7 linked regions of the Homo sapiens genome follow. The protein of the gene in region 1 interacts with the protein of each later gene in a pairwise test. Each region holds a gene or a part of one and is shown on either strand. Other genes may lie near its edges.

Evidence for each region.
Region 2: the proteins of NTAQ1 (region 1) and SPINDOC interact in binary tests that used the Homo sapiens proteins (3 or more experiments, as listed by UniProt).
Region 3: the proteins of NTAQ1 (region 1) and KCTD15 interact in binary tests that used the Homo sapiens proteins (3 or more experiments, as listed by UniProt).
Region 4: the proteins of NTAQ1 (region 1) and RAD54L interact in binary tests that used the Homo sapiens proteins (3 or more experiments, as listed by UniProt).
Region 5: the proteins of NTAQ1 (region 1) and MAGEA11 interact in binary tests that used the Homo sapiens proteins (3 or more experiments, as listed by UniProt).
Region 6: the proteins of NTAQ1 (region 1) and EIF4G1 interact in binary tests that used the Homo sapiens proteins (3 or more experiments, as listed by UniProt).
Region 7: the proteins of NTAQ1 (region 1) and CTH interact in binary tests that used the Homo sapiens proteins (3 or more experiments, as listed by UniProt).

Annotation. Positions count from the first base shown.
Region 1 is NC_000008.11:123,433,774-123,437,273, forward strand, and holds part of NTAQ1 (protein N-terminal glutamine amidohydrolase), read left to right. Parts: intron 1-1,668; exon of another isoform or gene 1,669-1,739; coding exon of another isoform or gene 1,740-1,769; intron 1,770-2,679; coding exon 2,680-2,828; intron 2,829-3,436; coding exon 3,437-3,500. UniProt on the Homo sapiens protein: Mediates the side-chain deamidation of N-terminal glutamine residues to glutamate, an important step in N-end rule pathway of protein degradation.
Region 2 is NC_000011.10:63,816,456-63,819,955, forward strand, and holds part of SPINDOC (spindlin interactor and repressor of chromatin-binding protein), read left to right. Parts: intron 1-1,349; coding exon 1,350-1,679; intron 1,680-1,760; coding exon 1,761-1,910; intron 1,911-2,071; coding exon 2,072-2,197; intron 2,198-2,346; coding exon 2,347-2,547; intron 2,548-3,500. UniProt on the Homo sapiens protein: Chromatin protein that stabilizes SPIN1 and enhances its association with histone H3 trimethylated at both 'Lys-4' and 'Lys-9' (H3K4me3K9me3).
Region 3 is NC_000019.10:33,806,870-33,810,369, forward strand, and holds part of KCTD15 (BTB/POZ domain-containing protein KCTD15), read left to right. Parts: coding exon 1-138; intron 139-3,500. UniProt on the Homo sapiens protein: During embryonic development, it is involved in neural crest formation. Inhibits AP2 transcriptional activity by interaction with its activation domain.
Region 4 is NC_000001.11:46,268,263-46,271,762, forward strand, and holds part of RAD54L (DNA repair and recombination protein RAD54-like), read left to right. Parts: intron 1-2,396; coding exon 2,397-2,523; intron 2,524-3,500. UniProt on the Homo sapiens protein: Plays an essential role in homologous recombination (HR) which is a major pathway for repairing DNA double-strand breaks (DSBs), single-stranded DNA (ssDNA) gaps, and stalled or collapsed replication forks.
Region 5 is NC_000023.11:149,710,739-149,714,859, forward strand, and holds the start of MAGEA11 (melanoma-associated antigen 11), read left to right. Parts: upstream 1-1,321; 5' UTR 1,322-1,424; intron 1,425-2,404; 5' UTR 2,405-2,421; coding exon 2,422-2,517; intron 2,518-2,531; exon of another isoform or gene 2,532-3,288; coding exon of another isoform or gene 3,289-3,360; intron 3,361-3,742; coding exon 3,743-3,838; intron 3,839-4,121. UniProt on the Homo sapiens protein: Acts as androgen receptor coregulator that increases androgen receptor activity by modulating the receptors interdomain interaction. May play a role in embryonal development and tumor transformation or aspects of tumor progression.
Region 6 is NC_000003.12:184,328,106-184,331,605, reverse strand, and holds part of EIF4G1 (eukaryotic translation initiation factor 4 gamma 1), read right to left. Parts: intron 2,976-3,500; coding exon 2,850-2,975; intron 2,698-2,849; coding exon 2,616-2,697; intron 341-2,615; coding exon 242-340; intron 135-241; coding exon 1-134.
Region 7 is NC_000001.11:70,431,768-70,435,267, forward strand, and holds part of CTH (cystathionine gamma-lyase), read left to right. Parts: intron 1-315; coding exon 316-468; intron 469-2,060; coding exon 2,061-2,182; intron 2,183-3,357; coding exon 3,358-3,410; intron 3,411-3,500. UniProt on the Homo sapiens protein: Catalyzes the last step in the trans-sulfuration pathway from L-methionine to L-cysteine in a pyridoxal-5'-phosphate (PLP)-dependent manner, which consists on cleaving the L,L-cystathionine molecule into L-cysteine, ammonia and 2-oxobutanoate.

The sequences.
Region 1 (3,500 bases):
CATTTACACACTAATGCTTCTAGCAGCACTATGAGGTAGACCAAGCTTGTCTAACCTGCAGCCTATGGGCTGCATGTGGCCCAAGACAGCTTTAAATGCAGCCCAACACAAATTTGTAAACTTTCTTAAAACATTATGAAATTTTTTTGTGATTTTTTTTTTTTTTAGCTTATCAGCAATCGTTAGTGTTAGTGTATTTTATGTGTGGCCCAAGACAATTCTTCTTCCAGTGTGGCCCAGGGAAGCCAAAAGATTGGACACCCTGGAGTTAGATACTCCAGTTATCTCCATTTTATAAAAGAGCAGAGTGAGGTTGCCGAGGGGAGGGGCTGAGATTGGAACCAGGCGCTTACCTGCTCCTGCCTGCATTGCTCTCCTGCCTGCATTGCTCTCCTGCCTCTGATGTTCTCTGTTCTCCACAATATCCTGCAGCAGTTTACCTGGTTCCCATTCACTTCTCTGGGAACTTCTTGAGGGTGAGAACTTATCTTTTTCATCTTTGCATCTGCAGTTCAGCAGCACAGTCTTTCACATAGAATAGATAATGTGTGGTTCAAAAAAACTGATATGGGACTGGGCACAGTGGCTCACACCCATAATCCCAGCACTTTGGGAGGCAGAGGCAGGGAGATCACTTGAGGCCAGGAGTTCGAGACCAGCCTGGTCAACATGGTGAAACCCCATCTCTACTAAAAATACAAAAATTAGCTGGGTGTGGTGGCGCGCCTGTAATCCCAGCTACTCGGGAGGCTGAGGTGGGAAAATCACTCGAACCCCGGAGGTGGAGGTTGCAGTGAGCTGGGATTGTGCCACTGTGCTCCAGCCTGGGTGACAGAGAGAGACTCTGTCTCAAAACAACAACAACAACAAACCTGTAATATGAATTAGAAGATGTTAAGAGAGAAACAGAATTTGGATAAGGCGGAGATTCTGGCAGGGGGTGGGAGAAGATAAAAAATTGATTCGTGGGAAGAAAGCCTTTAGCTGGAGCTTGTGTGGTAGAAAGAGGTAGAGAAGGTTGCTGCAGATGGAGGGGAATGACATGAGCAGACCCATTGGGAGGCAGTGGTGGACTGTTTGGGGGCGTGGAGGATAGGATGTATCTGGGGAAGTCCAGAGAATAGGCATTCATTTTTGAATCTTTCTGTTTTGCTAAGACAGACTTAGAGCCAAAGGCAGCACTCAGGCTTTTAAAGGCACAGCATCCCTAGTCTTAAGTATTGTTCTTACCTCAGGATTTATACAGGGCTCAAGTAGAATGATATTTGAGAAAGAAAGTGCCTTTTAAACTCTAAGATATTGTAGAAATATAAGTTGGTATTACTAATGTTGCTAGGTTGCTTTGATTTCACAGTGCTGTTCTCTATGAGAGCGTTTTTCTTTGGAAGAACTCAGAGCACCACATTGCTCATGTCCCTTGATCACCTCCCTGAAATCCCTTTCAGCTCATCGCTGGTGTTGGGCAGTACCTTGAGTCTGAGAGTGAGGGTGAGAATTAACATCCACACTGTGACAGAGCTGTGTGGGAAAAGCTGTCTTTTTCTTTCTCCCTTAGTGGCTACAGATGAAAGCTTGGCTAACTTCTTTTTTTAAAAAATAGTTTTTCCTTTCTTTTAATTGCAAAAGTGGTTCCAAACTAGAAATTAAAGTCCTCCTTCTCCTCTCCAGGCTGACCCCCAGAAGCCTCCTTTGTTACTAGTTTGGAGCAGATCCTTGCAGACGTTTTCCTCTGCATTCACATGCATGCAAATGTACTTCTGAATGCGCACGTATGTCTTTATATACAGATAGCTTTTAACAAATAGCAGGTGGGGCCGGCACTGTGGCTCACACCTGTAATTCCAGGACTTTGGGAGGCTGAGGCGGGGGGATCACTTGAGGCCAGAAGTTGGAGACCAGCCTGGCCAACATGGTGAAACACCATCTCTACTAAAAATACAAAAATTAGCTGGGCGTGGTGGCGGGTGTCTGTAGTCCCAGCTACTCAGGAGGCTGAGGCAGGAGAATCGCTTGAACCCAGGAGGCGGAGGTTGCAGTGAGCTGAGATTATGCCACTGCACGCCAGCCTGGGTGATAGAGCAAGACTCTGTCTCAATTAAAAAAAATATGTGGGGCCAGGCACCGTGGCTCACACCTGTAATCCTAGCACTTTTGGAGACTGAGGCGGGTGGATCGCCTGAGGTCAGGGGTTCAAGACCAGCCTTGCCAGCATGATGAAACCCTATCTCTACTAAAAATACAAAAAATTAGCTGGGCATCGTGGTGCGCGCTTGTAATCCCAGCTACTCGGGAGGCTGAGGCAAGAGAATTGCTTGAACCCGGCAGGTGGAGGTTGCAGTGAGCTGAGATCATGCCACTGCACTCCAACCTGGGTGACGAGAGTAAGACTCCATCTCAAAAAAAAAAAAAAAAAAAAAGTTTCCTAGAGGTAAAATTGCAGTTTCAGAGGATGTGCATTTAATGACTATGAACATTTCCATTATTTAACCATTTCCCTATCTGTGGACATTTAGTCTGTTTTCATGTTTTCAGGGTGTTGTGTTTGCTTTATTCTATTTTGCTATTATAAGGAGGGCTGTAGCAGTCCTATATCCTTTTTAGTGATAAGGTATGTGTCTGAATACTGGGATTTCATCATTATGAAGTAACTTGGTTAACTTCAGCAACTTTTACTTTTAGGATTACCATGTTGTTTTGCTTCATGTTTCAAGTGGAGGACAGAACTTCATTTATGATCTCGATACTGTCTTGCCATTTCCCTGCCTCTTTGACACTTATGTAGAAGATGCCTTTAAGTCTGATGATGACATTCACCCACAGTTTAGGAGGTGAGGACATTCAAGATGGATTTACTTATTTTCTGAAGTAAGAATTTGACGATTCCACAGAGGTTCTTTTTTTTTTTGACAATTGTTTTGTAAAGATCTCGTCTGACATCACCATTGAGTTGATGTTTAAGAATGATGTATTTGCAACACAGGAGATTCAAAATGTTTTAAAGCTTTAAAAGTTATCTATCATATGAAAGGTTGTCATTCTTTTAAAATTTTGTGTGATGAGATCTCAGACATTTAATTTCAAGCGGGTTGGGGATTTTTCTTATATTCTTTTTGTTTTTGTGGGGATACCTCGTGCTGTCACCATTGAGAGGGCTGTGAGGGCAGCATCAGAAAATCATGCCCATTGCCCTTGATACACAAATCGAGTAAATCGAGGCAACCAGATATATTTTTGTGCCTTTGCCTTTCTGTTTCGGGGTTTGGTTGATCATTTCCTATGCTTCTCTAATAGGTAGTAAAGTTGCCTGTATTACTAACCATACAGAAATGCATGAGTAGTTTTGTGCATGTCATAGGAAATGAGTCGATATAAAAATGGAGTTAGAATTTCAAACATGACATCTCCCTAATGTGAGTGTATATTGATTTTTCTGCAGGAAATTTAGAGTGATCCGTGCAGATTCATATTTGAAGAACTTTGCTTCTGACCGATCTCACATG
Region 2 (3,500 bases), on another chromosome or scaffold:
TGAGAGGTCATTTCTGCCCATGGTCGCATGAGAGATAGGTACAAGACATATCTCGTATCTCTTTCAGACACCACCTCTTGTATCCATGCAAGCCGAGGCTCCTATTTCTCATACCACCTCTTCCATGCAGCCCCCAGGTATTAGGGCCTCCTGTGTTTTAATTTTGTCCCATCCTCTCTGGAAGGTAGGAGGGAGATGCAGCCGTGAAGGATCATGGGCACTTCGTAAAAGCACTGAGCTTCCAGGCTGATGCAGGTCTAAGGCTGCCTTCTTTGCTGAACTGGAAAGGGTGATGCCCTGTGAAAGCTTATGGTCTGTCTGTGTACACAAAGAGCAGGTATCAGGCAGCAATAGGAGTGGGACCATGGCTGTAAATGCTCTGTGAGCACTGAGAAGGGAGGCGAGTTCTGAGGGGATGGGGTGGCCTTTAGAACGGGCATGGTGGCTCATGCCTATAATCCCAGCACTTTGGGAGGCTGAAGCAGGAGGATTGCTTGAGCCCGGGAGTTCACAACCAGCCTGGGCAACATAGCAAGACCCCATCTCTTAAAAATTATTTTTTTGTTTGTTAATTAGCTGGGTGTGATAGCATGCATCTATCTGTAGCCCTAGCTACTCAGGTGGCTAAGGCTGGAGGGTCCCTTGAGTCCAGGAGTTGAAGGCAGCAGTAAGCTATGATAACACCACTGTACTCCAGCCTGGGTGACAAAATGAGACCCCCATCTTTTAAAAAAAAAATTATTAGCCAGGCATGGTGGCGCTCACCTGTAGTCCCAGGTGCTTGGGAGGCTGAAGCAGGAGGATCGCTTGAACCCAGGAGGTCAAGGCTGCAATGAGCTGAGATTACGCCATTGCATTCCAGCCTGGGTGACAAAGTGAGACTCTGTCTCAAAATAAATAAATAAAATTTAAAAATTAAAAGAATTTACCTTCCTCATCCTCAAGAAAGTGTAGAAGTCAGATTTGGATGAAATCTATTGTCAGGGATTGGGGTTCTGGAAAGCTTCGCAGGGATGATGTTGCCCAGCCCAATTAGGGTGGTCTGGACAGATGTGCAAAGGCTGGAGACCTGCAAGAATGCAGCCTGTTGGGAAAGTATGTGTAGTTAGTCCTAAGGTCCAAGACTAGATCAAGAGGAAGTATAGACGCGAGAGTCGTGGGATCCCGGGCACATCGGCTGTGTTGAGTGTGGCGTGTGCCTCATGGGCTCCAGGGGAAGGAAGAAGAACACTTTGGCCAGAAATGCTCTCCTCCCCCATCCCACTCAAACCACTGAGTCTGGAGACGTGCTAAGTGTTGTTGGTTGTGGGCACCTTTAGTGATAACACCCTCCCCCTCTCCCCTCGCAGTGACCCAACAGGAGAAGACCCCACCGCCTAGACCCAGCCCGCTAGAGGCAGGCAGTGATGGCTGTGAGGAGCCGAAGCAGCAGGTGTCTTGGGAGCAGGAGTTCCTGGTGGGCAGCAGCCCAGGAGGCAGCGGGCGGGCACTGTGCATGGTGTGTGGCGCTGAGATCCGGGCACCCTCGGCCGACACAGCTCGCTCGCACATCTTGGAGCAGCACCCTCACACCTTGGACCTGAGCCCTTCTGAGAAGAGCAATATCCTGGAGGCCTGGAGTGAAGGGGTGGCCCTCTTGCAAGACGTGAGAGCTGAGCAGCCGTCCCCACCCAACTCAGGTAGTTGGTCCTGGGGCTGGCGAAGGGAGAAGTCGGACTTGTTGGGGCACTAGAAGCTCATTGTGCTCTTGCTCCCTGCAGACTCGGGCCAGGATGCCCACCCAGACCCAGACGCCAACCCAGACGCTGCCAGAATGCCAGCCGAAATCGTCGTTCTCCTTGACTCTGAGGATAACCCATCCCTCCCTAAAAGGAGCCGGCCCAGGGGACTCCGCCCCCTCGAGCTTCCTGGTTAGTCAACAGAGAAGCCAGTGAGCCCCGGTGGAGGTGGGGGTTTGGGGACAGGGTGAAATACAGGCCCTGTGTTCTGGGCAGGTATCTTCAGGAGCCCTGGGGTGGCAGGGTTCGGGGATGGCCTCTTTAAAAGGGTATGAGGTCTTTTCTTTTTGCAGCTGTCCCTGCCACAGAGCCAGGAAATAAGAAGCCCCGTGGTCAGAGATGGAAGGAACCCCCAGGGGAAGAGCCAGTCAGAAAGAAAAGAGGCAGACCTATGACCAAAAACCTGGACCCTGACCCAGGTGAAGGGGAGGCCCGGGGGAGGCGTGGGCTCTGGCCGCAGTGCTCTGAGGAAATCCGCATCAGTGAGGATGGAGCAGGGCCTGGGCGCAGGGCGCCTGCAGCTCCTGAGGCTTTTTCACTCACAGTTCCATCCCGTCCTCCCTTCCAGAGCCCCCATCGCCAGACTCGCCCACGGAGACTTTCGCAGCACCAGCCGAGGTCCGACACTTCACTGACGGCAGCTTCCCCGCCGGCTTCGTCTTGCAGCTCTTCTCCCACACCCAGCTCAGGGGCCCAGACAGCAAGGACTCACCCAAAGACAGGGAAGTGGCAGAAGGAGGCCTTCCCCGGGCGGAGAGCCCCTCTCCAGGTGAGCCCTCCTGAGAGGGAAGCACAGTAGGGACCTCGCAGGCAGCGCTCCTGGGCCAGGCCTCAGAGAGGCTGCTCTATGGCAGAGCCCACAGTAGGGGTGGGTGGGGTGGGTGGGGTGGGTGGTGCTCAGGTTTCCTGGTACACGGGGCCGGGGCAGGGGATCTGAATGATGAGGAAGGCTGGCCTGAAAGCTGAGCTTTTCTTTTTCTGTTTGTTTGTTTTTTGAGACGGAATCTTGCTCTGTTGCCCAGGCTGGCATGTAGTAGCACAAGCCCGGCTCACTACAACCTCTGCCTCCCAGGTTCAAGCAATTCTCCTGCCTCACCCTCCCTAGTAGCTGGGATTACAGGCGTGCGCCACCATACCCGGCTAATTTTTGTATTTTTAGTAGAGACAGGGTTTTCCCATGTTGGCCAGGTTGGTCTCAAACTCTTGACCTCAGGTGATCCAACTGCCTTGGCCTCGCAAAGTACACCACGCCTGGCCTATTTTTTTATTTTTTATTTTTTGAGACAAGAGTCTTGCTCTGTCGCCCAGGCTGGAGTGCAGTGGCGCGATCTCGGTTCAGTGCATCCTCTGCTTCCCAGGTTCAAGCGATTCTCCTGCCTCACCCTCCTGAGTAGCTGGGATTACAGGCGTGTGCCACCATGCCCAGCTAATTTTTGTATTTTTAGTAGAGACAGGGTTTCGCCATGTTGGCCAGGCTGGTCTCGAACTCCTGACCTCAGGTGATCCACCTGCCTCAGCCTCCCAAACTGCTAGGATTACAGGCGTGAGCCACCGCACCTGACCAGGTGGGCTTTTCTTAGTGTTTCCTTGTTTCCTGGAATTGGTCACTGGGTCCGGGTAGGCCAGTGTTTCCCAGAAGCCTGATACTGATTTCCACACATGCAGTTTGTTCTAGCTAGAGCCTGAGGGGTGCCCACCTTACCCTGGTGGAGCTGAGGCCCA
Region 3 (3,500 bases), on another chromosome or scaffold:
CGCCTCTTCAATGGCACTGAACCCATCGTCCTGGACAGTTTGAAGCAACATTATTTCATTGACCGGGATGGGGAGATTTTCCGCTACGTCCTGAGCTTCCTGCGGACGTCCAAGCTGCTGCTTCCGGATGACTTTAAGGTAAGTCCATGGCTGGTGGCCCCCCTGCACTGCCTGTGTGATGGCATTACACAGGGGACGCTGTGACTTAATAAGTGGACCCCTGGTTGTCATGGTAACCATAAAAAGTTAAACGATGAAGCCGAGGGCTAAATCAGTTTTTCTAAACTAATTTTGTTTTCTCACATTTTTAGCTTATTTATCAGGGTATATAACAACAATCAAGCTGCAGAACGTATCCCAGCTGAACATTTGTCGTGTTTAAGGATGGGCGCGTGCCAGCGTTATAGTAGTTAGAGGTTCATAAATCTGTTCCATCGGCTGGGTGCAGTGGTTCATGCCTGTAATCCCAGCACTTTGGGAGGCCAAGGTGGGTGGATCACTTGAGGTCAGGAGTTCAAGACCAACTTGGCCAACTTGATGAAACCCCATCTCTACTGAAAATGCAAAAATTAGGCCTGGAGCGGTGGCTCACGCCTGTAATCCCAGCACTTTGGGAGGCCGAGGCGGGTGGATCACCAGGTCAGGAGTTTGAGACCAGCCTGGCCAAGATGGTGAAACACCGTCTCTGCTAAAAATAGAAAAATTAGCCAGGCGTGGTGGCAGGCCTGTAATCCCAGCTACTCGGGAGGCTGAGACAGGAGAACCACTTGAACCCAGGAGGCAGAGGTTACAGTGGGCCGAGATTGCGCCACTGCACTCTAGCCTGGGCGACAGAGCAAGACTCCGTCTCAAAAAAGAGAAAGAAAAGGACGGCTGTAATTAGACTTCAAAAAATAAAGTATAAAAAGAAAAATGCAAAAATTAGCCGGGCATGGTGACAGGTGCCTGTAATACCAGCCACTTGGGAAGCTGAGGCAGGAGAATCTCTTGAACCCAGGAGGTGGAGGCGGAGGTTGCAGTGAGCCGAGATCACGTCACTGCACTCCAGCCTGGATGACGGAGCAAGACTCTGTCTCAAAAAAAAAAAAAAATCTGTTCTGTGTTGGGCAATTTGCAGGGAGAAAAGCCCTGATGACCAAACAGATACCCTTTAAACAAAAGGTTAACCCCCAGGTCTCCGGGTGAGCCCGTCAGGGCAGGTGACCTGGTTCCCTGGGTCATGCCTCAGTGCTGAGCCCCTCCCACATGTCAGGGACTCTGGGAGGAAGGAAACTCAGGCCTGGGGTACACTGGCATGTATTAATACTAGCAAATGTCTGTCCTTCCTTCCTTCATTCCTTCCTCTATCCAGAGGACCAGTAGCCCTGGGGCCTTGTCTTTCATCCAGCTCAGTTACTGAGTGCCAGCCTCTGAATTCAGGCTGAAAACAGTGAAACACACACACTAGGACCTGCCCCACAACACTTAACAGTCTAGCGGGCAGACAGATACTGAACTTGAAGTCCATGTGACCTGGGCTGGGCGGGTTTGAAAGAAATGATGTTCATCTGGGTGGTGAAGGCAGAACGGGGCCAAACAGGTGTGAGGGCCTTGGTGCAGGGGATGGGGGTGGCAGATGGCTTGATGCATTCCAGAACTGGAAAGAAGGTGTCAAGCCTGGAGCTTTATGGACTGGGAGGGGAAGGTCAGGAAAGGAGGCTGCTGTTTGATGTCAGGACCTTGGTGGGTGGCCCAGTGCCTGGCATTTAACTCTGAATGCAGTGGAAGGGGTGTGTGCAGGGGAAGGGCAGTCAGATCTGCAAATTGGGAAGATCTCTCTGGCTGTTGGGTGGGGAAGAAGGCAGAGAGGGGTGGGGGTGGGTGCAGTGAGGCAATTATGGATGAGGCCCCTTCCCCAGGCCAAGGGAGGCTGGGTGGAGGCTTTGGATGGACCAGGATGGAGATAGAGAAGATGGAGCAAGGTGGCACATCAGACTTCTGTTTAGTACAGGCACAGTGGCTCACTTGGTCATCCCAGCACTTTGGGAGGCCGAATGGGGAGGATCCTTTGAGGCCTGGAGTTCAAGACCAGCCTGGACAACATAGCAAGATGCTGTCTATACAAATTTGTTTTTTAATTAAAAAAGGCCGGGTGCGGTGGCTCACACCTGTAATTCTAGCGCTTTGGGAGGCCGATTTAGGTGGATCACCTGAGGTCAGGAGTTCGAGACCAGCCTGACCAATATGGTGAAACCCCATCTCTCTTAAAAATACAAAAATGAGCCGGGCGTGGTGGTGTGCACCTGTAGTCCCAGCTACTCGGGAGACTGAGACAGGAGAATTGCTTGAACCCAGGAGGTGGATGTTGCAGTGAGCTGAGGTCACACCACTGCACTCCAGCCTGGGCAACAGAGCAAGGTTTCATAAGTAAATAAATAAACTTTACTTTTAAAGTTTTTTAAGAGTAATTTATTTACTTTTCATAAGTAAATAAATAAACAAGCAAGCAAGCTGCAAAAGCACGTGGCTGTGGTAGTGTAAAGGGCCTCTTGCAGGTGCCCCGGGACTTGTGGCTTGAATTCTGAGTTGGTAAGTTGAGGCCCGGGGTGGACCAGGCTGTGGGAGTGGGGTTTCTGCCCCTGCATGGGAGAGCTGGTGGGGCATCAGATGGAGAAATCCTGGGCCATGACAAAAGATGGGGTTGTCTGTCATGCAGTTGTCATTTAAAATCTCAGGAGAATGGCCAGGAGAGGTGGCTCACACCTGTAATCCCAGTGCTTTGGGAGGCCAAGCAGGAGGATCATTTGATCCCAGGAATTCCAGACCAGCCTGGACCTTGTGTCTACAAATAATTATTATTGTTATTATTATTATTATCCTGGCATGATGGCTCATGCCTGTAGTCTCAGCTGCTCGGGAGGCTGAGTCAGGAGGATCCCTTGAGCCTGGGAGTTCAAGGCTGCAGTGAGCTATGATCACATCACTGCACTCCAGTCTGGGCTACAGAATGAGACCCTGTCTAAAGAAAATAAAATAAAAATCTCAGGAGCAAGTGAGAGTGGAGAGAGCAGAGGCCCAGGATAGAGCCCTGAGGAGCCCTTGCATGGGGCAGGAGAGGCAGGATGGGCCACTGACCCATGACAGGCCCAGAGGTCAGGGTTAGAATCTAGGCCTCCCTCCAGGCGGCCAGCAGGTGGAAGGGACTTAGGGCCTGTAGGTCAGGGGGCTGGGCTTCCTTGCCTCTTCCTCAGGCATGAGTCATGGGGACCTATGGGACCTTGGCCATTCCCAGTGGGGTGGGTGTGTGTGAGCGTGTATAGTGTGCATATGTGGCCCAGGGCATGGGGCCAGTATCAGCGCCTGAGGGACAGTCTGTGCGAGGCTGCTTAGCCCAGAAGGGGGCTGCGTGGCAGGGGGCGGGCTTCCCCTCCCTGGACACTTTATCACACTCTGCCTGTTTGGGCAGGGGCTGGACCAGGCACTTGGCACATCTTGCATCCTTTGATCCTCACTTTCATTCT
Region 4 (3,500 bases), on another chromosome or scaffold:
GGCTGTGATCATGCCACTGCACTCTAGCCTGGGCAACAGAGCAAGGCCCTGTCTCTAAAATAGTAATAATAATCAAAACTCCTCATTCCTCCCTCCCCTAATCCCTGGCAACCACACATATATTTGTGAAAGGGTGTGTTAGTGTCACCCCAACTTGCCAGTGCTCAAGAGTAGGCAGAGAACCTGCTGAGTGGCAAGATTATGACCAAGTGAACACATTTGTGTAACCACCATCAGATGAATTACTAACACTCTCTCAGCAGCCCCTTTTCTAATCACTATCCTCTCCTTTTGTCCCGGCAGCAAACTCCTTCCTGACACTATAGGTTGGTTTTGCCTATTTTTGAATTTATGTTAATGAAATCATATAGTATGTATTCCTTTACATCTGGTTTCTTTTGTTCAACATGTTTATAAAGTTTATCCACATTATGTGTAGCAGTAGTTTGTTCATTTTCATAATTGCATACTATTGCATGTTATGAGTACACTACAATTTATTCTACTGGTTTGGTTTTGTTTGTTGAGACAGAGTCTCTGTTGCCCAGGCTGGAGTACAGCGTTGCAGTCATAGCTCACTGTACCCTCAACTTCCTGGGCTCAAGCAATCCTCCCACTTTGGCCTCCTGAGTAGCTGGGACTACAGGCATATGCCACCACTATTGGCTAACTTTTAAATTTTTTATAGAGATGGGGTCTCATATGTTGCTCAGGCTGGTCTTGAATTCCTGGGTTCAAATGATTCTCTTGTATCAGCCTCCCAAACTGCTGGAATTATGGGCATGAGCCCCTATGCCTGGCTTCCATCTTTTTCTGTTTGGATATCTGGTTCACCCTACATCATATATTGAAAAAACCGTTCTTTCCCCCATTGCTTTGCAGTGCTACCTTCTTCATAAATCAAATGTTCATATATGTGTTGCTCTATTTATGGACTCTATTCTGTTCCTCTGGTCCGTTTGTCTCCTTGTGTCAGTACTTCTCTGCTTTATTTACTGTGGCCTAATAAGTCTTGATATCCATTAGTGTGAATATTCCAACTATAGTCTTTTTTTTTTTTTTTTGACACAGGGTCTCGCTTTGTCACCCAGGCTGGAATGCAGTGGTGAGATCATGGCTCACTGCAGCCTTAACTTCCGGGCTCTAGTGATCCTCCTGCCTCAGCCTCCTGAGTAGCTGGGACAACAGGCACACACCATCATGCCTGGCTAATTTTTGTATTTTGGGTAGAGGTGGGGTTTTGCCATGTTGCCCAGGCTGGTCTTGAACTCTTGAGCTCAAGCAATCTGCTCAGCCTCCAACTATATTCTTACTCCTTAACATTGTCCTAGATATTCTTGGCCCTTTGCATTCCCATGTAAATTTTAGAATCAACTTGTCAATTTATACACCTACTGCCTGCCATACCCACCAAAAAACTCTAACTGGATTTTAATTGGGCTGTATTGAAACAGATAAATTCTGAAAGATCTTTCATTTTTATAATACGGAACCTTCCAATATATTAATATGATCTGTCTCTCAACTTGTTTAGGTCATCTTTAATTTCTCTCAATGTGGCCAGGTGTGGTGGCTCACAACTGTAATCCCAGCACTTTGGGAGACCAAGGCGGGAGGGTACCTTGAGCCCAGGAGTTCAAGACCAGCCTGGGCAACATGGCAAAATCCCATCTCTACAAAAAAAATACAAAAGTTAGCTGAGTGTGGTGGCATGTGCCTGTAGTCCCAGCTACTTGGGAGGTTGAGGCTGTGGTGAGCCATGATTGCCCCATTGCATTCCAGCCTGGGCGACAGGGAGAGAACCTGTCTCAAAAAAAAAAAAATTGGCCGGGCACGGTGGCTCATGCCTGTAATCCCAGCACTTTGGGAGGCTGAGGCGGGCAGATCGCGAGATCAGGAGTTCGAGACCAGCGTGGCCAACATGGTGAAACCCCGTCTCTACTAGAAATACAAAAATTACCTGGGCACGGAGAAGGGGTGCCTGTAATCCCAACTACTCGGGAGGCTGAGGCAGGAGAATTGCCTGAACCTGGGAGGCAGAGGTTGCAGTGAGCCGAGATTGCACTCCAGCCTGGGTGACAGAGCAAGACTCCATTGCAGGAAAAAAAAAAAATCCACTCTGGCCATGTTTGTCTTTTTAGTGGACTATTCAATCCATTTACATTTACTCTAAGTAATTATATATTTGGATTTTAACCTATCATCTCACTTTTGGCCTTTCAAGTCTTCACTGCTTTGATACCTCTCTGATCTGTTAAACAGAAATTGGCCTATATTTTGTTTAGCCTTGTTCTTGGTAGGAAGGCTGGTTTGTGAGAAGGTAGTCTGCCATCACTAGCTGTGGGAAAATCATTCCTTTTCCACATTCTTCTGTTTTCCTTCTCTCCTGTGTTTAGGGACTGCCCATGAATTCAAGAAGCATTTTGAATTGCCAATTTTGAAGGGTCGAGACGCTGCTGCTAGTGAGGCAGACAGGCAGCTAGGAGAGGAGCGGCTGCGGGAGCTCACCAGCATTGTGAATAGGTAATGACCTTAAGCGAAGTCATTAGAATTGCCTCCCAAACCATCCATGGCCAATCCTTTGGGGGCTTTGCCTCTCTAGAGCCCTCAAAGGCTGGGATTCTAGGAAGGGAGTGGGTTCTGTGTCCTAACTATGGCCACTGAATAAACAAGGGAGTCTTGGAGGTGAAGTGCCTGCTTTCTTTCTGGCTTGGGCTCTGTGGTCTGGTTTTGGTCTGTTTATCAGCCTGCTGAGGAAGCTTTTCTCTGATGCTGCTGGACTTCTTGAGCAAAGTATACCTTGGAGCATTACTAGTATTTCAGAAGCTTCCTGTCAGTTGGTCTCAGACCCGAAACATTAGGCTTCTCTTCCCAGGCCCCATAGTCATTCTGTGACAGGTAGGAGAAGATCTGAAAGGTGGTTGTGGCTCCCAGGCTAAGGGGACTGACTTTTTCATGGGAGTTACATAACCCAGAGGGTAGGCACATTCTGGACTCCTTTGTCCAGAGGTGGTATGCACACTTGATAGGTTACATTCTAAAGAGTCCTCCTGCCCTTCCCAACAACTGCCTGGCTACCTGGCTACCTCTCCCTACCAATTTTAGATGGCAGGACGGGCATGGTGGCTCACGCCTATAATCCCACCACTTTGGGAAGCTGAGGCGAGTGGATCACTTGAGGTAAGGAGTTCGAGACCAGCCTGGCCAACATGGGGAAACTCCCATCTCTACTAAATATACAGAAATTAGCTGGGTGTGGTTGGGGTGCACCTGTAGTCCCGGTTACTCTGGAGGGAGAGGCTGGAGAATCGCTTGAACTCGAGAGGCAGAGGTTGGAGTGAGCTGAGCTGCGCCACTGCACCCCAGCCTGGGTGACAGAGCAAGACTCCGTCTCAAAAAAAAAAAATTAGATGGCAGGAAGAAGAATTGGTGTTTTCTTAAGATCTGCTTCTTAGGTGCCTGATACCTATCCTTCATAGTCTTCCCAGGAGGTCTATGCT
Region 5 (4,121 bases), on another chromosome or scaffold:
CAAAGTGTTTGGATTACAGGTGTGAACCACCGCGTTCAGTCTTGGGCTTCTATCTTAGACTCCCCAAAACAACCCGGGAAAACTAAAGAATAAAAATAAATAAATAAAGGAACAAGCAAACAATATCAAAAAAGAAATCTAAACAAAAAAAACATGAGAGAGCCCTGAGAATTTCATTGTATTTTGAAGGAATACTTGTGATTGGCGGGGAAGAGTGGCAGGGAAGTTGGGGTGGATAGGAAGAAAGAAATGTTTAAAATTCTGCCCCTACTTCACTGTGGAAAACTCGGGTAGGGTCTCAGACCACAGGTGCCAGTAGTCATGGGGTAACTTCAGGACATGAGGAAACACTGGTTGATTAAAGGAATACGGCTGGAATTTGTGCTGATAACCACTAAAACCACGTCAGTAAATAAAGATTGGCTTTTTAAAAATTATCGTTTTAATTGAAGATAAAGAATGGATTAAATTAGAGTATTGACCATTAGAGTGAAATAGGCAGTTAGGTTAAGTATGATTTTTGACACTGAATGAGAATTAAAAAATGAAAATCACTAAAATGAACTATGAAGTGTTAGATAAATTCTAAACGCAGGACTTCCGCAAATTTCTTGCAGCCACTCAGCCTCTTCAGTGTAAAAATAAAGCTTTCAGGGCAAAAGTTTGCAAAGTCTAGATCTGGCTGGGGAGGAGCCCCCGTAGGAAGGTGTGCATCTTCTCCCAGAGGTCACTACAATCACGGGTACTGAAGCCACATGGAAGCACCTAGCCTGGGATCCGCAGCTATTGTCTGCAAGGGGTGCAGTTGGGCAATGCTCAGAGGTGACAGAAACAGAGCATCTCCCACCCATCACTTCATGAAAGAACCAGTAGCCAAGAGGAGGACCCTCCTGAGTGAGGACTGACGGTCCACCCTCCCCACATAGAGGGGCCACAGAATCCAGCTCGGTCCCTCCTGTCAGCCCCGGAAGACCTTGGCAATGTTGTCCCCCGACCTCACACCTCCCGCTCACTGCCACCTCAGGGGACTCAGAGTCAGAGACTTGGTCCGAGAGGAGCAGACATCATTGGCAGAGGACGGAGCTCCAGGCTCTGCAAGGAATCAAGGTCAGAAACCTGAGGGAGGACTGAGGCACCCCCATGACCCTCGACCACATCTGCACCCCTCGCCACTACTTTTCCCCCTGCCCCACCCCGCCCCGCCCCGCCTCGCCTCGCCCCGCCCCGCCTCGCCTCGCCCCGCCCCCACACGGGCAGAATCGGGTTCGCTCCTGCTGTAAATCCAGGGAAGCTCCAGGCGTGGGGGCCGGATGTGACCTCCATTGGCTTCCGCCTCTGGGATCTGAGAGAAGCGAAAGCGTCTTTCTGAGGGGTGTCTTGAGAGTGGCAGAGGGCAGCGGGTCCAGGCTCCATGAGGAGGCAAGGTGAGAGCTGAGGGAGGACTGAGGAGTCCTCCTACCCAGATAGAGGGCCCCAAATAATCCAGCGCCAACCCTGGAGCCAGCCCTGAAACAACAGGGGACCAAATTATCAGGCTGAGACAATCCCCCTCCTCAATGCCCAAGGAGACTCTGCGAGTCTATGGTGTGACCCGGGCAGAGGCAGTTCCATAAAGGGTGGGGCCCCGGCCTTTCCAGGCATCAACATCAGGACTCTGAGAAATTATGGAGAGGTTCCACCCCATCCTGATAGAGGGGCCACAAAGTCCATCCTTGTCCCTGCAGACAACGCAAAGGACCTCCGGGCTTGGTACTGCGGAGTTGCACATTAGGGGGTCAGAGAGAAGTGATAGCCCGGTTCTGAAGGGCGGCTTGTGACCTGCTGAGGGCAGCGGGCCCAGGCTCTGTGAGGAGGCAAGATGAGATGCTGAGGGAGGACTGAGGATGCTCCCTACCCAGATAGAGGACCCCAGATAATCCAGCACCGCCTCTGCTGCCAGCCCTGGATCACCCCATGGGGATGGACTTCTCAGGCTGGGCCGTCCCCTCTGACACCCCCCTCGGCTTCTGCCCCCCGCCGCTTAAGCCTCAGGGGACTGTGGGGTCAGAGCTTGGTGTGACCAGGGCAGGGCTGGTTGGGGGGGGCAGGACCCAGGTTCTGCCAGGCATCAAGGTCAGGACCCCGAGGGAGGGCTGAGGCCCCACAGAGCAAGGCTCCCTCTCTGCTGTCAGTCCTGGGAAGTTCCTGGCATTGCTGCCAGGCAAGTGGATCCTGATTTCCGCATCCTGGGCTGACAGAGGGAAGGGGCTTGGTATCATGAGAAAGACCTAGGGGGAGCACAGACAGGGCTCAGTCCCTGCTGGGAGGTGAGCAAGGCCTGAGGGACAACTGAAGGGACCCAGCACCCCAGAACAGCCCCCCCCCATAGTCCCGCCGTCTCAAACTGAGGTGCCTTTTCATTCAGCCTTGGGAATCTGAGGGATGGAGACTCAGTTCCGCAGAGGGGGTCTGGGGTGCAGCCCTGCCAGCATCAAGAGGAAGAAGAAGAGGGAGGACTCAGGAGACTTTGGACTCCAGGTCAGTAGGGACCTTGGCCCTTGGAGTTCCAAGGCACGGTGGCCACATGTGGTGCATCCTCACTCTGCCTTTGGGGTGTCAGCAAGGAGTGGGTTGTGGTCTGAGGAGTGGAGCCTCAGGTCAACCCAGGGAGGAGTCCCAGAGGGAGGACTCAGGCAACCAATTATCCCTGAGGTAGAAAACCTGCCCCTGCCATCGGTCCTTGGAGGCCCCAAGCAGGACTCTAGGAAAGAGAGGCAGCTCCCCACTTCCTAGTTGGGGTTCTCTGGGAGATGGTGGTCGTGGCCTGCAAAACTCATCCACAGTTCAGCAGGAGAGACATGGATAGGCCTTGTCAGGAGTAAATCTGAATACCTGGAGGAAACCCAGAGAGAGGAGGCACCCCTGAAATCTGCTTCATCTGTCAGCCTTTGGCATCCCATGAGGGGTGTCCATGTAGTGCCCCTTCACTTTCTGCCTCCCATATCTCAGAGAGGTGGGGCCCTTGGTCTGAGGCAGGTCCTCAGGTCAGCAGAGGGATACACACCTGGTCAGCACAGGGTGGAGTCCAGGATCTGCCAGTAGTCAAGGAGAGGAAAATTGATGAAGACTGAAGGTAAGAATGTACCCTCCCACATGCCAAAGAAAAAGGGACCTCACCAATCCTTGCTTCCTCTGTTTTCATCCCTCGGAGGCCCAAGTTGGGGAGGCATGTGCCATGCTCACATTTCTGCCACGAGGTTGGGGGTGGCACCTTGCTCAGGGAGGTGAGCACCTTGTTTCAAGGGGGTGATGACAGGTCAGCAGGTGGAGCCACACCTGATCAGCAGAGGGAGGAGTCCCAGGATCTTTAGGACTCAAGGTGTATGTGTCCCCTTGGTGAGGACTGGAGATACCCACATCCCATAATGAAGGGATCCCACAGAGTCTCTCTGTCCCCTGTCCTTGGCTGTGTGGGGACCTCATCACGGGTGGCCCCAAGTGGCAAGGTCACTTGTACCACAGGCAGAAAGTTGGGAAACCTTCAGGGAGATGAGGTCTTGGTGTAAAGGGATATGTCTGCTCATCTCAGGGGTTGGGAGTCAAGGAAGGACAGGCCCTGGCAGAAGTAAAGATGAAAAACCCACAGGAGGACTTTGGAATCCCCAGAACCGAAGGGTCCAGCCTCTGCTGTCAGCCCTGGACAACCACATGATGGGGTGATGGGACGTGGGGCCCCTTACTTCTGTTTTGGAATCTTGGGCAGGTGAGCACTATGTTCTCAGAGGACGACTTCCAGTCAACAGAAAGAGCCCCATATGGTCCACAACTACAGTGGTCCCAGGATCTGCCAAGAGTCCAGGTGAGAAACCTGAGGGAGGATTGAGGGTTCCTCCTGGCCAGAACACAGAGGGCTGCTTAGAAATCTGCTCTGCCCCTGCTGTCTCCCCAGAGAGCATGTGCAGGACTATGTGCTGAGACCCCTCTCTTATACTGGGATCATTGGTCTCAGGGAGCGGGAGACATTGGTCTGAGAGGGCTGCACTTAGGTCAGCAGTGGGAGGGTCCCAGGCCATGACCAGAATCAAGGTGGGGGCTGACGGGACAGCACTTACCAAAAACATGGGACTCAGCCCTTCCCTGCC
Region 6 (3,500 bases), on another chromosome or scaffold:
TCTATCCAGTCGAACACCCGCTGGTTACTGCTGCCCTCCTTCAGCAGCTTCTCCAGCTGCCTGTTCAGCTCCTCGGAGGGGAGTGCCCTCTGGCCAGGGGCTTCCGACTCCTCTCCCAGGGTATACTCCACCTTCTGCAATGGAAAAGGCCCGCAGTTAAGAGGTAAGGTTGCCAACAGGAGACAAGAAAGAAGACTGGCCAGCCTCAAATGCTAGAATTAACCCAACTCCATCCCCAAACCTGTTCAGCGACGAATGCACCAATGTCCTGGCCTTCAGGTAGAAATTCCTTCCAGCTAAGCCCGGCTTCTCGCCACAGCGTCCCCACCTTTTTAGGACCCTGGAAAACACAAGACCAACCCAGCTTACCAAAGCTCTCTCTCTCCAAGGACCCAACAGCTCTACCACATTAATCCAACAAATATTTACTGAAAGCCTACTAGGTACTTGCTAGGCATTAAGGATGCTATAGAAATACTAATAGGCAAAGCCCTTCCATTCCTACGGTCTGGTGCAGGGCACAGATGTCAGTCAAATAACCACCCAAATAAATAAGAACTCGTCCCAGGAGCGGGCGGTGGCTCACGCCTGTAATCCTAGCACTCTGAAAGGTCGAGGTGGGCGGATCACCTGAGGTCAGGAGTCGGAGACCAGCCTGACCAACATGGTGAAACCCCGTCTCTACAGAAAATACAAAAATTAGCCAGGCGTGGTGGTGGGTGCCTGTAATCCCAGCTACTCGGGAGGCTGAGGCAGGAGAATCGCTTGAACCCAAGGCGAGGGTTGCAATGAGCTGAGATCACGCCACTGCACTCCAGCCTGGGCGACACAGCGAGACTCTGTCTCAAAAAAATAATAATAATAAAATAAAATAAAAGAGAACTTGTCCACCAAAGTGCTATGACACTAGGGTAGGAAAAATGATGTAAGGGCCTCTAGGAAGGGACAACTTCTAACAAGTATGCTTGTTTCCTAAACCCAGAAAATCTTAAGACACAAATATACCCCATCCCTAACACAAATAAAAAATCCTCATAAAACCAGCAGTCTGAGTGCATTTTCTGTAAGGGGCAATAGACTATGAAGACATCACTCTTTTCTTTATAACAGACTAATGGCACTGGCTCTTAGCAAGATTATTGCAGTTCACAGATTTTAAAACATGCCCATTTTTTCACATTTTAACTAAAAGTTGTCTTACAGCCGATATATATCTTTTTTTATTTTGAGACAGAGTCTTGCTCTGTCGCCCAGGCTGGAGTGCAGTGGCACAATCTTGGCTTACTGCAACCTCCCCCTCCTGGGTTCAAGCAATTCTCCTGCCTCAGCCTCCCAAGTAGCTGGGACTACAGGTGCGCACCACCATGTCCAGCTAATTTTTTTGTATTTTTAGTAGATACAGGGTTTCATCATGTTGGCCAGGCTGGTTTCCAACTCCTGACCTCACGTGATCCACCCACCTCTGCCTCCCAAAGTGCTGGGATTACCACGCCCGGCCCAGTCTTTTCTTTCTTAACAGCGCATAAAGAATGTCTTATAATCTATGGCACCTTGGAGTTGATGAAATACACAAATAGTTCAATATGCTTATTTGTTGTTAAAAAACAACTTGTCCTGGTACACGTCTATTTAAAAGAATTAAATGATGTTGACATAACAATTCCTTTAAATCCCAAGTGTGATTCCTCCAGGTTCCAGATGGCTGAACCCTTGAAACTGCACACACTCACCCCAACTTCTCACTTCCACTAAGTACCACATTCAACTTACCTTTCCCCATCTCTTTACCTTTATATTCGCTAGTTACCAATTAACTTTCACAAAGCCGCTTCAGCACCCTGAAAGCCTCCTGTCACAAATATTGTCAAATATTCCTTTGCAACCCCACAGTACTTAAGATACTCCACTCTATTTCAACTGTTTTATGTCACGCTTTACTGTTGTTTTTATCAAGCTGTCATTTCTTTTTTCTTTTTTGGAGACAGAGTCTTGCTCTGTTTCCCAGGCTGGAGTGCAGTGGCACAATCTCGGCTCACTGCTACCTCCGCCTCCCGGGTCAAGTGATTCTCCTGCCTCAGCCTCCTGAGTAGGTGGAATTACAGGCACCTGCCACAACACGGCTAATTTTTGTGTTTTTAGTAGAGATGGGGTTTCACCATATTGGCCAAGCTGGTCTTGAACTCCTGACCTCGTGATCCACCCACGTCGGCCTCTCAAAGTGCTGGGATTACAGGCGTGAGCCACTGCGCCCGGCCCATTTCTTCCTTTTTCTCTACCAACTTGTTTCTTGTGTTTTATTCATTGCTGTGTCCCTAGTGCTTAGTATATGATAAATGATCATCAACAAAACCCTAGTTCAATGAATGAATAAATAAATGCATCAATCACAGGCCTAGGGTCTTAGACTGCCATTCTCCTCCAGTCTTGGCCAGAACTCATGATAGGAACTGGTGTGCGGGAGATGGCCCACCTCAGTATTTCCTCTCCCAGGTACCAACACAATCCTGTCATCACCATCACTCCACTCCACCAATGGACCATGAAGCTTCAGGGCCACAGCAAACAGCCAAAACCACACCGTGGGAGGCATCTCTGGACTCCTGGCCCTCACTCACCATGCTTTTGCACAGGAGGCCCAGGATCTCCAGCAACAGGGAAGCAGCTTTGCCCAACGGTCTCAGAGGCTTTGTAATCTCCCTACAAGAAGAGAAAAACCTAATGCTGACAGCCTCCACAGTTCTCTCACCACTACTCCATCTCCCTCCAAACCAGGGTATCCAACCCAGCCATTTCCCTACCACCTTTCCTCTGGTCTTTACCTCCCCTGAATTCCACCCAGGGGGACTTACCTGAACAGCTCCCCCATGGGCACCCCACCTTCCTGCAGAATGGGTGTTACCAGTTCCGCTAGGTAGAGCCACACGTGGGGGATGTCAATTTCCATGTCCTCAGCCAATTCCAAGATTTCATACAACCTGCCAAGGGAATTCAAAGTCAAGACATTCTAGGCCAGGTCCCCACTCTCCTTCTGGGGCAACGTGGCATGGCTAGGGCATCAACTATGGAACCCCCAGGAACATTTTCTAGACATGGGGACAATTATTTCAAGCTAAGGCCACCTCTGTGTCCTTAGATGGTTTTCACCCCGCTTAACCCCCTAAAGTTATGCTGACCAGGATGGTCAAGGAACCCATACTGTTTTTTGGTTTTTTTTTTGAGACAGTTTTGCTTTTGTCACCCAGGCTGGAGTGCAATGGCACGATCTCGGCTCACTGCAACCTCCACCTCCCGGGTTCAAGCAGTTCTCCTGCCTCAGCCTCCGAGTAGCTGGGATTACTGTGCCACCACGCCTGGCTAATTTTTGTATTATTAGTAGAGACAGGGTTTCACCATGTTGGCCAGGCTGGTCTAGAACTCCCAACCTCACGTGATCCTCTAAGGAATCCAACCCACCTTGGCCTCCCAAAGTGCAGGGATTACAGGCATAAGCCACCACACCC
Region 7 (3,500 bases), on another chromosome or scaffold:
TAGGCTATGAACAATTTATGATTTTATTAAAATCATAGAAAGGACTACTTATCTTCATATTTGAGAAGTTTATATCATTGTGCTTTTACTTAGTTTTCAGCATATTTGCTTCCCCTCATTTTAAAGTAAATTTCTCTAAGCATATTCTATGCTTTGTTCTTCTGCTTCTGATTTGATATATTATTTTCCTCCTAGAACTCAAACATTGAGCTTTACACCTAGCTTCTGAGAGTCACTGTAATGGAAAAGAGAAGCCAGATAATTTCTTGGCCATACCCTGCCTTCAAACTTATCCAGGATGTGTTCATTTTGCAGCTCTTGGAGCAGTTCCATCTCCTATTGATTGTTACCTCTGCAATCGAGGTCTGAAGACTCTACATGTCCGAATGGAAAAGCATTTCAAAAACGGAATGGCAGTTGCCCAGTTCCTGGAATCTAATCCTTGGGTAGAAAAGGTTATTTATCCTGGTATGTTAATTTGATTTCTAAGCAGATCTACTAGGATTTCAGCAGTTATCCTGAGCATCGTGTTTATGTAACATTTATTTGTAAGTTAGGTGCTTTCACGTATTGTTTTTGTTCATTTATTATTGAGCACTGCCATGTGTCAGGCTCTGTGGTGGGTCAGGTGGAAAGAAGATAGACCTGGTCTCTACTGTTGTATTGCCTCTAGTTTAGTGGATGCTTGGATAGTAGAAAATCAGTTTTATGCATTAGTTGTTCCTGTGGTGGTCTGTGATTTGAAGGCTTGTGTATACCTATTCAAAGATTTTAACATTAGACTTTTCAGTTGATTTGCTTATAATCTTGTCTGTCTGCTATTCAGCATTAGCTGTCACTTTAATCTGATAGAGGTTTGTCCCAGTTGAGACTTGATATTAGGTGCTAAAATTCCCCTGAGGTTCTCTCTCTCTCTTTTTTTTTTTTTTTTTTTTTGAGACGGAGTTTCACTCTTGCCCAGGCTGGAGTGCAATGATGCAATTTCAGCTCACTGCAACCTCTGCCTCCCGGGTTCAAGTGATTCTCTTGCCTCAGCCTCCCGAGTAGCTGGGATTACAGGTGCCCGCCACCACGCCCAGCTATTTTTTGTATTTTTAGTAAAGACGGGGTTTCACCATGTTGGCCAGTCTGGTCTCGAACTCCTGACCTCAGGTGATCTGCCTGCCTTGGCCTCTCAAAGTGCTGGGATTACAGGCGTGAGCCACTACGCCCAGCCCCCTGAGGTTCTCTCCTGTATTTCTCTCCTGTATTTTTATTCCTTCACCTCTTCCAGCATCTAGAAAGTCTTCTGTGGAGTTGGCTGACTTACATCTTACTTTTTGAATTTATTTTTACCAGTCTTTTAAGCTGTGGTGGTCCTAAGTAGTTCTTTTCTTTTTAGATCCTTTTGAGGGTTCTAGCATCTAGAATATATAGAAAAATTAAGACTGGAATTTCACTAGGAAATTCACAAGGAATTTAGAGAAACCAAAGCGAAATACATATGAAACTAAATGCCCTAAAGGTACTTTAGGTAAAGAGCTGTTGATTGATATATATTTTGGATGGAGGGAGAGAGAAGAGTTTTGAGCTATGCCATGAAGAATGGGCAGCATTGGTTAAAAGGGCATAGACAAGGTATTGGAGATTTATTCAAGAAATTTTTATTAAACGCCAGCTATGAGCCAGGCTTTGCACTAGGAACTGGGATCCAATTAGTAACAAAAGAAATGGATTTGCCCTCATGGAGCAACTCTGGTGGCTAAGACAGATACTAAGCAAGAAATTACAGGATATAATTAACAAGGGAAGTCCAGGTTGAAGGGACAGCATGTGCAAAGGTCCTGAGATGAAAGGGAGTGCAGTGGTGCTGGCATAAAGAAAGCTGAAGAGGGTAGAAAAGATGAGGCAACATGAAGCTGGAGAGATAGGGGCCCAAGCAAGTAGTCAGATGTGAGCATGGCATAATCCTCGTCTTAGGCTTATTTGCAGTTAAGTAGACAGTGAAAAATACCACCCTCCCCCCCCAAAAATTACATGTTTAATTCTAAAATAAGACTTATGATACCTTATGATTACAGGGCTGCCCTCTCATCCACAGCATGAGTTGGTGAAGCGTCAGTGTACAGGTTGTACAGGGATGGTCACCTTTTATATTAAGGGCACTCTTCAGCATGCTGAGATTTTCCTCAAGAACCTAAAGGTAAACTTACAAAATAGGTTTAAAATTGTAGGAGGTAAGGCCTTACAGCAGTTCACTATCTCTCACTTCTACTCAAGCCAGATAATGTTTTTGTATCTGCAGGTTACACTCATAAACCTCTTTATCATGAAATGCATTGGGTTGAAAACAACTTAAACAACAATGTAGCAGACATCTAAATATGTTCACTTACTTAACTCTCCACATACTACAATCAGTTTGGAGACACAGAGTATTCTAATGCATTTATTTAAAAGTGAACCCCTTTTTTCAGATGAAATAGGTAAAACCTCGAAGTAGTGTGCAGTTAGTGCACTGCACAAGGGCTGTTCTAAAATCCATCCTGTGAATGGCTTTCCAAACCCTGTGCCTCCTAAGCTGCATCTGACTGGGGTGAGGCCTTTGTCTAATTTTCAAAAAGCCAGGAGGAGGCTCTCAGGGGCCTTGAGCAAGAGGCCTGTCCAACTCCATACACTGGGCTTAACCTTGAGCTCATGCAGTTTATATACTACAGAATAGATTAACAGAAAGCTGCCAGATTAGTCAAAGTGTTCCTGGTGTCACCTTAATTTAATACATTTACCAAAGTAACTTTTAAAACATTTGTAAAGTTTTATGACACTATCACACTCAACATAAAAACAGTGGTTTTTTTTTTTTCCCCTATTCCAGCAGGGATTTAAAGGATGTATTTCATAAGTGATATATATTAACAAGGAAGTATGTATAACTTGGGAAGCATTTAGAGATTTTTTTATTTAAGTGGTAACCACAGAGCAAAGTCTCAAATGCAATAATTTTTTTTTTTTTTTTTTTTTTTTTAGGCAGAGTTTCACTCTTTTGCCCAGACTGGAGTTCAGTGGCATGATCTCGGCTCACTGCAACCTCCACCTCCTGGGTTGAAGTGATACTCCTGCTTCAGCCTTCCAGGTAGCTGGGATTACAGGTGCGTGCCACCATGCTCAGCTAATTTTTGTATTTTTAGTAGAGATGGGGTTTCACTAGTTGGCCAGGCTGGTCTCGAACTCCTGACCTCGGTGATCCGCCTGACTTGGCCTCCCAAAGTGCTGGGATTACAGGCATGAGCCACTGTGCCTGGCCTAAAAACATTTATTTTTAGATTTTAGTATTTTTATTTTACTAGAAAATCTAAATTCATGTTTTCTTTGCTATAGCTATTTACTCTGGCCGAGAGCTTGGGAGGATTCGAAAGCCTTGCTGAGCTTCCGTAAGTATAGTTCTGTTTTTCTCAGTATTTTAAATTTGATGTCAGCTTTAATGATTGGGAAAGAAATATGATAAGGTCAGGGATAATTCA